Linked DNA regions of Homo sapiens. The protein of the gene in region 1 interacts with the protein of each later gene in a biochemical or structural test. Each region holds a gene or a part of one and is shown in the gene's direction. Other genes may lie near its edges. The genes, in order: NEDD4, SMAD3 and PTEN.

Region 1 (3,832 bases):
GCAGTATAGGAAACTGCTCATATCATGCTTATATTGCTTATATCAACTGCTTACATTATTATGTTTCTATAGGGCTTTCCATTTTCCCTAAATAAATTGAGAATGAAATTGATTTTTTTTCCTTAGAGCTAACCTTCTTTTTTGGAGGTGACAGAATATTGATGGCATGTTTTCTCTTACTGGTTTCCCCTGGAAATTTGCCCATGAAGTACTGAGGAATAAAATATTTAGATATATCTTTTGTAAAATTTACAATAAGTTCTGCCTAAAGCATAGTTGTGTACATTTGTCACATAAGCAAAGAACGTACAAAAGATTAGTGAGGCAATGTAGCTCCATTAATTAAGAGCACAGACTCAGGAGCTAAGACTTTCTTAAGTCGTCTTCTTCAGTTTTATGTGTAAAATGAAGACAATAATAGTAGCTTTCGCATAGTGTTGTTATGAGGTTAAACACGTTAACCTGCCATTCCAGGGTACCCATGCCTGGCTGTTTTAGTCCGTTTTCATGCTGCTGATAAAGACATACCTGAGACCAGGCAATTTACAAAAGGAAGAGGTTTATTGGACCTACAGTTCTACATGGCTAGGGAGGCCTCACAATCATGGCAGAAGGCAAGGAGGAGCAAGTCACATCTTACATGGATGGCAGCAGGCAAAGAGAGAGCTTGTGCATAGAAACCATTAGATGTCGTGAGACCCATTCACTATCATGAGAACAGTGCAGGAAAGATCCGCCCCCATAATTCAATCACCTCCCACCAGGTTCTTCCCATGACACATGGAGATTGTGGGAGTTACAATTCAAGATTAGATTTGGGTAGGGACACAGCCAGAATATATCACTGGCACAGTCTGTAAATGTCACCATCTGTTAATGAGTGAAGCAAGATAGACTCCAGGGAGGAAAGTAGAGGTAGGGAAAAGCCTGAACAGACAGGCACAACAGCTAGCAGGCAGTGGCTATCCTACAGGTCACAGAACGGTGTTCATTGGAACTTAATATGAAAAGGACTGTTAACGAAATGCCTTCATGGGGGCATTACCATCACCATCAATTGCTTCTTTAGGCCGGGTGCCATGGCTTATGCCTGTAATCTCAGCACTTTGGGAGGCCAAGGCGGGAGGATTGCTAGAGCTTAGGAGTTTGAGACCAGCCTGGGCAAGATGGCAAGACCTCAAAAACTTAAAAAATTAGTCAGGCATGATGGCATGCGCCTGTGGTCCAGTTACTTAGGAATCGGAAGCAAGAGGATCACTTGAGCCCATGAGGTCGAGGCTGCAGTAAGCCATGTTCACGCCACTGCACTCCAGCCTGGACTACAGAGCTGTCTCCAAAAACAAAAGCTTCTTCAGATGTAAAGAAGTCTATATTACTAAGTGATTAAAGAAAATGCAGAAACTGTCTCATACCATAGAGGAAACCAAGACAATATACCTAGTTGTGTTTTCCCTGAGTATATTACGTAAGGAAAAAGAGACTTGGACACAGGGTGTAGAGGGAATGTTATAACTTTATGAGAGATGGGTTTGTTATTATGTTGAACTGATTTAAACAGTACGTCTCTCCTCTGGATTTTCAGAATGACATTCCAAACAAATTTGAAATGAAACTTCGCCGAGCAACTGTTCTTGAAGACTCTTACCGGAGAATTATGGGTGTCAAGAGAGCAGACTTCCTGAAGGCTCGACTGTGGATTGAGTTTGATGGTGAAAAGGGATTGGATTATGGAGGAGTTGCCAGAGAATGGTTCTTCCTGATCTCAAAGGAAATGTTTAACCCTTATTATGGGTTGTTTGAATATTCTGCTACGTAAGTACCTTTACAATGATTATCGGCAGAAAAAGAAAAATCACTGTTTTAAAAGTAAGAGTCGGCCGGGTGCAGTGGCTCATGCCTGTAATCCCAGCACTTTGGGAGGCCGAGGCGGGCGGATCACAAGGTCAGGATATCGAGACCATCCTAGCTAACACGGTGAAACCCCGTCTCTACTAAAAATACAAAAACTTACCCAGGCGTGGTGGCGGGCGCCTGTAGTCCCAGCTACTCAGGAGGCTGAGGCAGGAGAATGGCGTGAACCCGGAAGGCGGAGCCGAGATCACGCCACTGCACTCCAGCCTGGGCAACAGAGCAAGACTCCTCTAAAAAAAAAAGTTACCATTTTAGCCATTTTAAATATACAATTTAGAGTCATTACATACATTCACATTGTTGTGCTGCCATCCCACTATCCAACTCTAGAACTTTTTCATCTTCCCAAAATGAAACCCTATACCCAGTAAGCACTCGCTCCCCATTCCCTGGCAGCCACCATTCTGCTTTCTGTCCCTATGAATTTGACTCCTCGGGTACCTCACATAAGTGGAATCATTCAATATTTGTCTTTTTGTGACCAGCTCATTTCACTTAACATGATGTCTTCAGGGTTCATCCATGTTGTAGTATGTATCAGAATGTCCTTCCTTTTTAAGGCAGAATAATATTCCATTATTTTTGCATATAATGCTTTGTTTAGGCTGGGCGTGGTGGCTCATGCCTGTAATCCCACCACTTTGGGAGGCCAAGGCTGGTGGATCACAATGCCAGGAGTTCAAGACCAGCCTGACCAACATAGTGAAACCCTGTCTCTACTAAAAATACAAAAATTAACCAGGCATGGTGGCGGGCGCCTGTAATTCCAGCTACTTGGGAGGCTGAGACAGGAGAATCACTTGAACCTGGGAGGCGGAGGTTGCAGTGAGCTGTGACCGTGTCATTGCACTCCAGCCTGGGCGAGAGCAAGACTCCATCTCAAAAACAAACGAACAAACAAAACTTTGTTTATACATTCATCTGCCAAAGGACATTTGGGTTATTTCCACTTTTTGACAGAAATTACTATTTTTAAAACCATTAAATCCAGTGGAGGAATGTGGTTCTAACAGTGGTAAACAACTCTTAAAGGAGGAAGATTATTTGTAATTATTTGTCATATTAAAGTTTTTCAAATGAAGTATTTAAATGGGGTTGTCTTTACAGGGACAATTATACCCTACAGATAAATCCAAACTCTGGATTGTGTAACGAAGATCACCTCTCTTACTTCAAGTTTATTGGTCGGGTAGCTGGAATGGCAGTTTATCATGGCAAACTGTTGGATGGTTAGTATTAAGTATAAACTTTTTACAATATAATTACCTGTTTTCTTTCACTTGGTAATCATCCTAAATGTATTTGGTTTTTTGCAAGGTTTTTTCATCCGCCCATTTTACAAGATGATGCTTCACAAACCAATAACCCTTCATGATATGGAATCTGTGGTATGTCTTTTTCACTTATAGTATAGACGAAGTATAATTTAACAAGCAGCTTGAACATTTTGAAGAATTTGCTTTTAATGACATGGAAATTAATATATTATCATGTTTCAAAATACAAATGAACTTTTTCCTCAACATTTTATTATGAAAATTTTCTAACATATAATAAAGTTGGAAGAATTTTACATTGGACAGTTGTATATCAACTACTCACAATTGCTTTTTTTCTAGATTTACTTTATCACATACCTATCTGTCTATCCATCAGTCTGTCTTAGTTTCTTCATGCATTTCAGAGTAAGTTATAGATAACATTAAACATCCCACTAAATACTTCAATAGGTTATACCAAGTTATATGTCTTTTGAATCAGTATTTGCATTATGATCTTTTATGATGAATGTTATATATATATATATATATATATATATATATATATATATATATTTTTTTTTTTTTTTTTTTTTTTTTTTGAGACAGAGTGTCACTCTGTTGCCAAGCTGGAGTGCAGTGGCGTGATCTTGGCTCACTGC
Region 2 (3,600 bases), about 11 Mb from region 1:
CTGCCTGCCTGGATAGGACTGAATACAAAAGTAGATTTTTTTTTTCATCTTTTTTTTCAGTTAGGGAAACCCAGTTGCTTGGGTGGATCCAGACAAAATGGATTTTCATCCTTGGATTTTGTGCCCACGCCTCTGGGTCACCTTGTGTCCCTTGGCAACAGCTGCTGCTGTTTTGGTCGTGGGCAGAAAACTAAAGGCCACGTCTTGGGGAGGTGGCTGGTTTGGCCCTGTGCTGGTGATATCAATGTGTCTGCTAAGCCCCATAGATTGCAGTGTTGCTTGTCAAATTGTCTGCTTTCACCACAACTGCCTTTTAGTTTGGAAAGTAGAGAAAGGAAAATGTTTAACTTAGTCATTCCCCCTGTGTGTGGGGGGTTGGTCACTGGGTGCTTAAAAACACTCTGCAAGATCTGGACTCCGGGGTTTAAGGAGCCCTCAGTCTAAGGAGATTAAGCCAAGTGTGTTTTGGCTAATATATAATCATGAGCAGCAACAGCAACATTTGGCAATTAGAGCTGTATACTAGGGACTTCCAGACCACAGGCTTGCTTCTCTGTGACACCAGCTCTGACTTGTTTCAATTATCAGGGGAGCTGGCGTGATACACACTTATCGACATAAAGAAGGTGAAAGAGATTGGTGCCAAGGAAGTGGTAAGAGCTTCATTTAGATACACCAACAAAGGGGCTGTCAGGATACTCTGAGGTCTGGCAGGATTGGCAGAATTTACACAAGTTTTATAACAGCCTCTCATGCCTCACCTGCTTGAGTACCTGAGTAAAGCTGCAGGTATCTTCCTTGCCAGTTTATAAGAATGGAATCAAAGCATTTGCCGCTGAATGAGAGTTGGTGTGTGAGCGTTATATGAGGAATAAGGAGCTCGGCACACTTAAAACTTAGTTTTCTGGTAGACACTGGTAGCTTGTACTTCCACCAGGGAATCCATGCCTTGGCCTCGTTGTTGGGAGCTAGACCAAGCTTAAAGCATTGCTTGTTTGGAAGGGAATTTGGGCTTTCTTGTGTCAGAGCACCCAGTCCAGTGGAAAATTGGAGAATTGAAGCAAACACTAGGTCTGACACACAGCATCTACTCCCTCCCTGTGAATCTGATGTTTTTTTTTTGGAGACAGAGTCTTGCCTTGTTGCCCAGGCTGGAGCGCAGTGGCATGATCTTAGCTCACTGCAACCTCTGCCTCCCGGTTCAAGCGATTCTTGTGCCTCAGCCTCCCGAGTAGCTGGGATTACAGGCGCCCGCCACCACGCCCAGCTAATTTTTGTATTTTTAGTAGAGACGGGGTTTCACCATGTTGGTCAGGCTGGTGTTGAACTCCTGACCTTGTGATCTGCCCGCCTTGGCCTGCCAAAGTGCTGGGATTACAGGCGTGAGCCACCGCGCCTCACCGAATCTGATCTTTTACTGTAGCCTCCTCTTATTATCTCCTTGACTTTTGCCAGGGTACTCTCACTTTGAGAAAGGAAAAAGATCCTAGTCTTTAACATGCCTTTTCCAGATTTCTGGGGATAGACCTATTACTAAGGCTGTAGAGGCCTCCCTTTTCTCTTGGCTGCACTTCAGAGCACCATGCCCGTGTGGCCCATTGGAAGCAAGCCCCCTTCCAGCTGCTAGGGAGGTGGTCCATTATCTCTTTGCTCTTGTTAAGTTTGATTAGGGGAGTTCCACGTAGGGCCTGAGAAGAGGAGGTGCCTGCAGGACAATAGGTAGCTGATGAGGGATCTGACTCAGCTGCAGCTGAACCTAGGCGCCACTTGACGTTCCCTGGGAACATTTAGAACCTTGGAACATGCTGCTTGCACCTGGGAGTGGAATGTTTGCAGACAGCCCCTCTGTTGTTACAGGGCTGGATTTTGTTGATTTATTGATATTTATTGGACCCTCCCATGTCTGAGTCAATTTTTTAGGTACCAGAGGAGGATGCAGAGACACGTTTGAGAAGCTCCCAGCCTGTGAGAAGCTTACACATCAGTAAGGGAAACATGAATAGGGCATTATTTGAGTATCTAACTGCTATCTCTTTCTCATTCCCAGCTACCAGTAGAAATATGAGATCTAGTATGGATGATTTTTGATGGGGGCGGGCGTTGATGTGCCTTTTAAATATTGTAGAATTCACTATGTTAGGAAATAAAATAATGACAGGCATCTGTTTTTTTCTGAAAAAAACACAAAATTCAGGTCCTGTACCTGCCATTTTACCACCTGCAAGGATTTGGGAATCCATTTAAGTTTCACAGCTTTTATATCTGCACCTGTCAAGTCAGGATGAGATAAGTTCTGTGGAAGTGTTTTGTGAACCAGAGAATTTGACAGGTATGTTACGTTTATACTTCATTCTGCATCATTCATTCATTATTGAATTATTCAGTCCTTCGTTGAGAACATACTACAATGACCACAGCAGGGTCCCTGTACTCAAAGAGCTCCCTGTCTAGAGCGGGAGACAGACTTGCCCAAAGGTATGAGGCATGAGCTGCAGCTGAGGAATGTGCTAAGTGCCCAGCAATGTGGAAACACAGTTAATTCTGTGGGAGGAGGTGTAGAGAGGAGGAGAACCCATGAGAGGTGGAAAACTAAGAAGGGGACAAGGGTTATCCAAAGGAAGCTTTTTGGACTGCAGTATGATGTTGGGAACTTTTTGGTACATGGGGATAGTTCCCTATAAGAATGAGGACGTCTTTATCCTCTTTTACTAAACTGAGTGCTGCTATAAATATGTTACCTTGTAACTGGCACTGAACAGCTAGTGACTTGGGTGCTATATTTTACTCCACTGTAAAGCATTTTCTCTTTGAAGTAAAAAGTAAGTTAGTACTGCAAACTGAAATTCAGGTTTCCTTGGTGGGAACAGGGACTTTAGATGTATCAGCTCAGAATATGACAGGGAGTGTTAATAAAAAGTGGACAACTTGGCTGGGCACGGTGGCTCACACCTGTAATCCCAAGCACTTTGGGAGGCCGAGGCAGGCGGATCACGAGGTCAGGAGATCACAACCATTCTGGCTAACACGGTGAAACCCTGTCTCTACTAAAAATACAAAAAAATTAGCCGAGCTTGGTGGCAGGCGCCTGTAGTCCCAGCTACTCGGGAGGCTGAGGCAAGAGAATGGCGTGAACCCAGGAGGCGGAGCTTGCAGTGAGCCGAGATCGCGCCACTGCACTCCAGCCTGGGCGACAGAGCGAGACTCTGTCTCAAAATAAATAAATAAATAAATGAAAAGTGGACAACTTGCAGATGGTTGTTTTGAAATTCAAAGCTTCGGTGTGACCTAGCTTCTCATTTCTCTAGTTAACACTTGCTGAGAATAAATCCTAGACGCCTGAGTTTCTGAATGAACATAGGTGCTTTTAGTGGTATATTTTTTAAAAAGTCTTTGCAAGGGTGAAGTTTTAAATGACAATTTTAATAACAGAAAAATATGAATACAGTCGCATTTAATTCTGATGAGAAATGCAAGAAGTTGATGAAATTGAAAGAATTTGTTTCAAGCTTATCACATCAGGAATCCAACTAAATGAGTTAAAAAATAAATATTGGTTTAATAATGTAAACATGTGATTGCTGTATTATTATAATGGAATAA
Region 3 (3,832 bases), on another chromosome or scaffold:
TTTTACTTTTCCCACTTGATTTTAAATTATCAGGGTTATTAAGACCTTAAAATTATTTTACCAGGTTTTTACATGTGAGCTGTGACATGACTGGCATTTTCTTTGATTTCAGCGTATGTTGGTCTCTACACATGAAATTTGTGTGACTTAAAACTTTCTCTAAAACTGTACTTTTAGTTATGATATGCATAGAAAGCAGTATCAAATATTGCGTCAAATGACTAATAACACTTAATTTCTAGAGTTGTGGTTTTATTGAGCCAAAAGTTGATATGAAAAAAAGTCAGTAAGGAAAGTCAGTGAAGTGCTTGCTTTTTTGATAATTGCACTCCCAATAATTTTGATATTCCAACGTACTTGGTTTGCTTGTTTTCACGTTAATGTTTTCTGTTTATTGGAGTGGGAAGGCATTAAAATTGTCATTGAAGACTTTGTCTTTGACATGTTGTAGTATTTATTTCAGTAACTAACCTGTGAAAAGTTAAATTCCTTTATGAAAGTAGTGATTGGAGTATTTTTATCTGATAAAGAAAGATTAATAATGAAGCCATTTCTCCGAGGAAAATTGAGGACAATAATTCAGTTTTAAAATATTATCGCAAAATTAAATTATTCTAAAAATTTGTTAGTAGGGTTATATGCTTAATATTAGTCTGAAATATAGTGCTGAATTTGAGACTATAGAAAAATTAAGTGTATTTAGGGTATGTGGAAACGTTAGGCTTCTGTTGTATTTTTATTGTTTGGTAGATTTGCCTCTTTTCAAATAAATGTTCACAGGGAATACTTTTAACTTGTAGAGAGTACAGTGACTATTGAAGTTACCTAAATTACCTCAAGGTAAGTGATTACTGAAATTAATCATGAGGGTTTTAAAAAGTATTCTATTCACAACATTTATTTTACATTGTTTTGTATCTGCTAAGTTATATTTCCTGAAAAACATGACTGGACCACCTAATTGCTGTATGATAACTTACAAACTTCATTTTTCATAGTGCTTATTCAAGTGTAAAGCACAACTGAAAGGAGTAATGTACAGTTTATATGAGGAAAAAGGAATTTTATTGCTGCCAGTGTAAAAGTTTGCACAGCAGTATAGTCATCAATGCAGATTTACATTGCTTATAATATACTAAGTAAATACTAAATGATTAAAGATAATAAAATATGGTGAGGTATAACCACCTTCATTTTAAACTTAGTTTTAGAAGATAGTAAAGAAAGATTCCTTTATTACCTTTTTAGAATTTTATTTTTAATAACATGGGAAAGGCAACTGGTGATATTTTAATTTTTGTATGGAACAGTGCATCTGCTTTCTCATAGCCACATAAAATACATAAACTTCTTAGTGTTATGAAATGGCTTACTTTTTGGAAGTGAAGAAGTCTTCAATTCTTATTTTCTAATGTTATTTTGAAATTTGCCTCCATTTGCTGTTTGTTCATTTGGTGATAGCGCAACACTTAAAAAAATATTTTAAGCCGCTTCTGAAGTAATCACTTCAGTGACTTTTAATGGAGGAGTATTTGTTATGGGAAATTCACTTCACAAAGTTTTAACATTAATTCACTTGAAGTAAACGTGCTATTTTTAAATTTTCATCTCAATCTTTTAAGTAAGACGAAAGCTTAGGAAATCACTTTTATTATTGATATTGTGTGTGACTTCAGAGTTTGTAAAGAGAATTGTAGAAGTGTTGCATGCATATGACAATTTTCTGCTTAATTGAAATGTGAGGCCTCTGCCATACTACAAGGATTTAGCTTCCAGAAAATGTAATATTAACATAGCTTAAGAAATGTATTTTTTTTTTTCTGTAGAAACCGTTGGGTTAAACAAACAGTTCAGAAGTTTTATTACATGGAACCCATTAGTTCTTAATCTTGTTACCTTTTTCTTCATTTTTTCTGTTAAACTTGATTTTCACAGTCAGCATTGAAGAATTCATCTTGTGGCCTGAATTCATTAAGAAAAGATGTTAGGATTTGTTCTGAAGATAGTGACTTAGGAAATTTGTGAGACTGGGGTCAGTCAGTTCTGTTTTACAATTGCTTTCTATTTGGTAGCTTTGAAATTAATTTAGTTGCTTATCAGAGAGAATAATGTTGAGGTTAGACTAACCTTAAATTGGTAAGGCTTTGCTGAGCAAACTGATAACTGTAAGTCTTTTATAGGGTGCATTACTGCCACATATACGTTCTTCCATAGGTGGTTAAAAGTATATTGGTCTGTGTTTGGTGATTCTCTTTGTACATATTGAGTATATGCATTCACTAATGTAAAATAATTTGCCAAGAAAGGTGAAATTAGTATATTGTACTTGACTATTCACCTTTCCCTTAGTTTTTTGAATTTTTTTCATTGGTTGCAGAGGAAGTATTAGCAATTTAATTCTTTTAAAATAATTTGCACTGGAATAAATAAGTATCGGCAAATATAAGAAGAGTAACATAATTTAAGGGTGAATTAATTTTATTTGGGAAGTTTTAGTTCTGTATAGTTAAGGCAGATTCTTCATTTGCAACAGTTGACATTGGGACATGTGTGAACATCTTCAAGGTATTAGGACATCTTCAAGGCATTACTTTTTGGCAGTGTTGAGAATTTTTTTTTTTTTTTTTTTTTTTTTGAGATGGAATCTCGCTCTATCGCCCAGTCTGGGGTGCAGTGGCAGGATCTCGGCTCACTGGAACCTCTGCCTCCCAGGTTCAGGCGATTCTCCTGCCTGAACCTCCCAAGCAGCTGGGATTATAGGTGCATGCCACCACGCCCAGATAGTTTTTGTACTTTTAGTAGAGATGGGGTTTTACCACCTTGGCCAGGCTGGTCTCAAACTCCAGACCTCAAGTGATCCGCCTGCCTCGGCCTCCCAAAATGCTGGGATTACAGGCGTGAGCCACTGCGCCTGGCCAGTGTTGAGAATATTGAGAGATGGATATTGTAGCTGTACCTGCCATCAAAAGAATTTTCTTGACCTCCACATAGTGTGAAAAAGAAGACTGTTTACACATTATATTTTAAGTAATTATACACATAATTATTATCAGTACTCACCACTTCAAATATGAACAGTGAATCTAACCAGTGTTTGATTTCTCTGTGTGTGTATGTGTATACAAAGTTAGCAAACCTTTTATCTTAATATTTATTAAAAAACGAATTTTTGTTTCTTTAAAGAAAAGACTACCTTAGAGAATATTGTTCTATAGTTTTTAAATATGGTCAGATCTATTTTAAATTATGTTAAAATTTTGAGTATTACGTTTATCTATACTTTTAAGCATATATACATTGTTTCATTTTAGATTTTAGGGAGGCAGTGTGGGCTCTGGAGCCAGACTGCTTGTTTTGTAATCCTGGATCTTCCATTTAGTAGCTGGATGACTTTGAGTAGGTTATTTAGATTTTCTCAATCTATTTTATCTGTAAAATGGGGATGATAATGGAACCTACCGCATACGTTTATCTTGAATAGTAAGTGAGATAATAATAAGTAATTTCATTTAGCATAGTACCTGCCACATTGTAAATACTTAAATGGTAGCTACTGCTCTGAAAAACTGTAATTTCAGGTTATGTATGTAGGGAAATTATTTGTATTTTCATTTATGGTGTATGATTGTAACTGAATTTCCTCAGTTTGGGCCATGTTAGGATTTTGTTTCAAGTTATAAGTGTTTTTAAAAATAAGGGTATTCCTTTAGGAAGTCTGGGTATGACATGTCTGTGATTTTGCTGGTTCATCACAAATGGGAAATAAATCTCTGCTAACTCAAACTGTTGACCAAAGTAAAATTAATTATGCCAATCAAAAACTATTTGCTTT

The links.
Region 2: the proteins of NEDD4 (region 1) and SMAD3 interact in a test that uses a peptide from one of them, tested with the Homo sapiens proteins (3 studies listed by BioGRID and IntAct, with this or other methods).
Region 3: of the proteins of NEDD4 (region 1) and PTEN, one has a biochemical effect on the other in vitro, tested with the Homo sapiens proteins (7 studies listed by BioGRID, with this or other methods).

The regions. Positions count from the first base shown.
Region 1 is NC_000015.10:55,839,914-55,843,745, reverse strand, and holds part of NEDD4 (E3 ubiquitin-protein ligase NEDD4), read left to right. Parts: intron 1-1,582; coding exon 1,583-1,812; intron 1,813-3,018; coding exon 3,019-3,140; intron 3,141-3,228; coding exon 3,229-3,299; intron 3,300-3,832. UniProt on the Homo sapiens protein: E3 ubiquitin-protein ligase which accepts ubiquitin from an E2 ubiquitin-conjugating enzyme in the form of a thioester and then directly transfers the ubiquitin to targeted substrates. Specifically ubiquitinates 'Lys-63' in target proteins.
Region 2 is NC_000015.10:67,068,602-67,072,201, forward strand, and holds part of SMAD3 (mothers against decapentaplegic homolog 3), read left to right. Parts: intron 1-3,600. UniProt on the Homo sapiens protein: Receptor-regulated SMAD (R-SMAD) that is an intracellular signal transducer and transcriptional modulator activated by TGF-beta (transforming growth factor) and activin type 1 receptor kinases.
Region 3 is NC_000010.11:87,866,609-87,870,440, forward strand, and holds part of PTEN (phosphatidylinositol 3,4,5-trisphosphate 3-phosphatase and dual-specificity protein phosphatase PTEN), read left to right. Parts: intron 1-3,832. UniProt on the Homo sapiens protein: Dual-specificity protein phosphatase, dephosphorylating tyrosine-, serine- and threonine-phosphorylated proteins.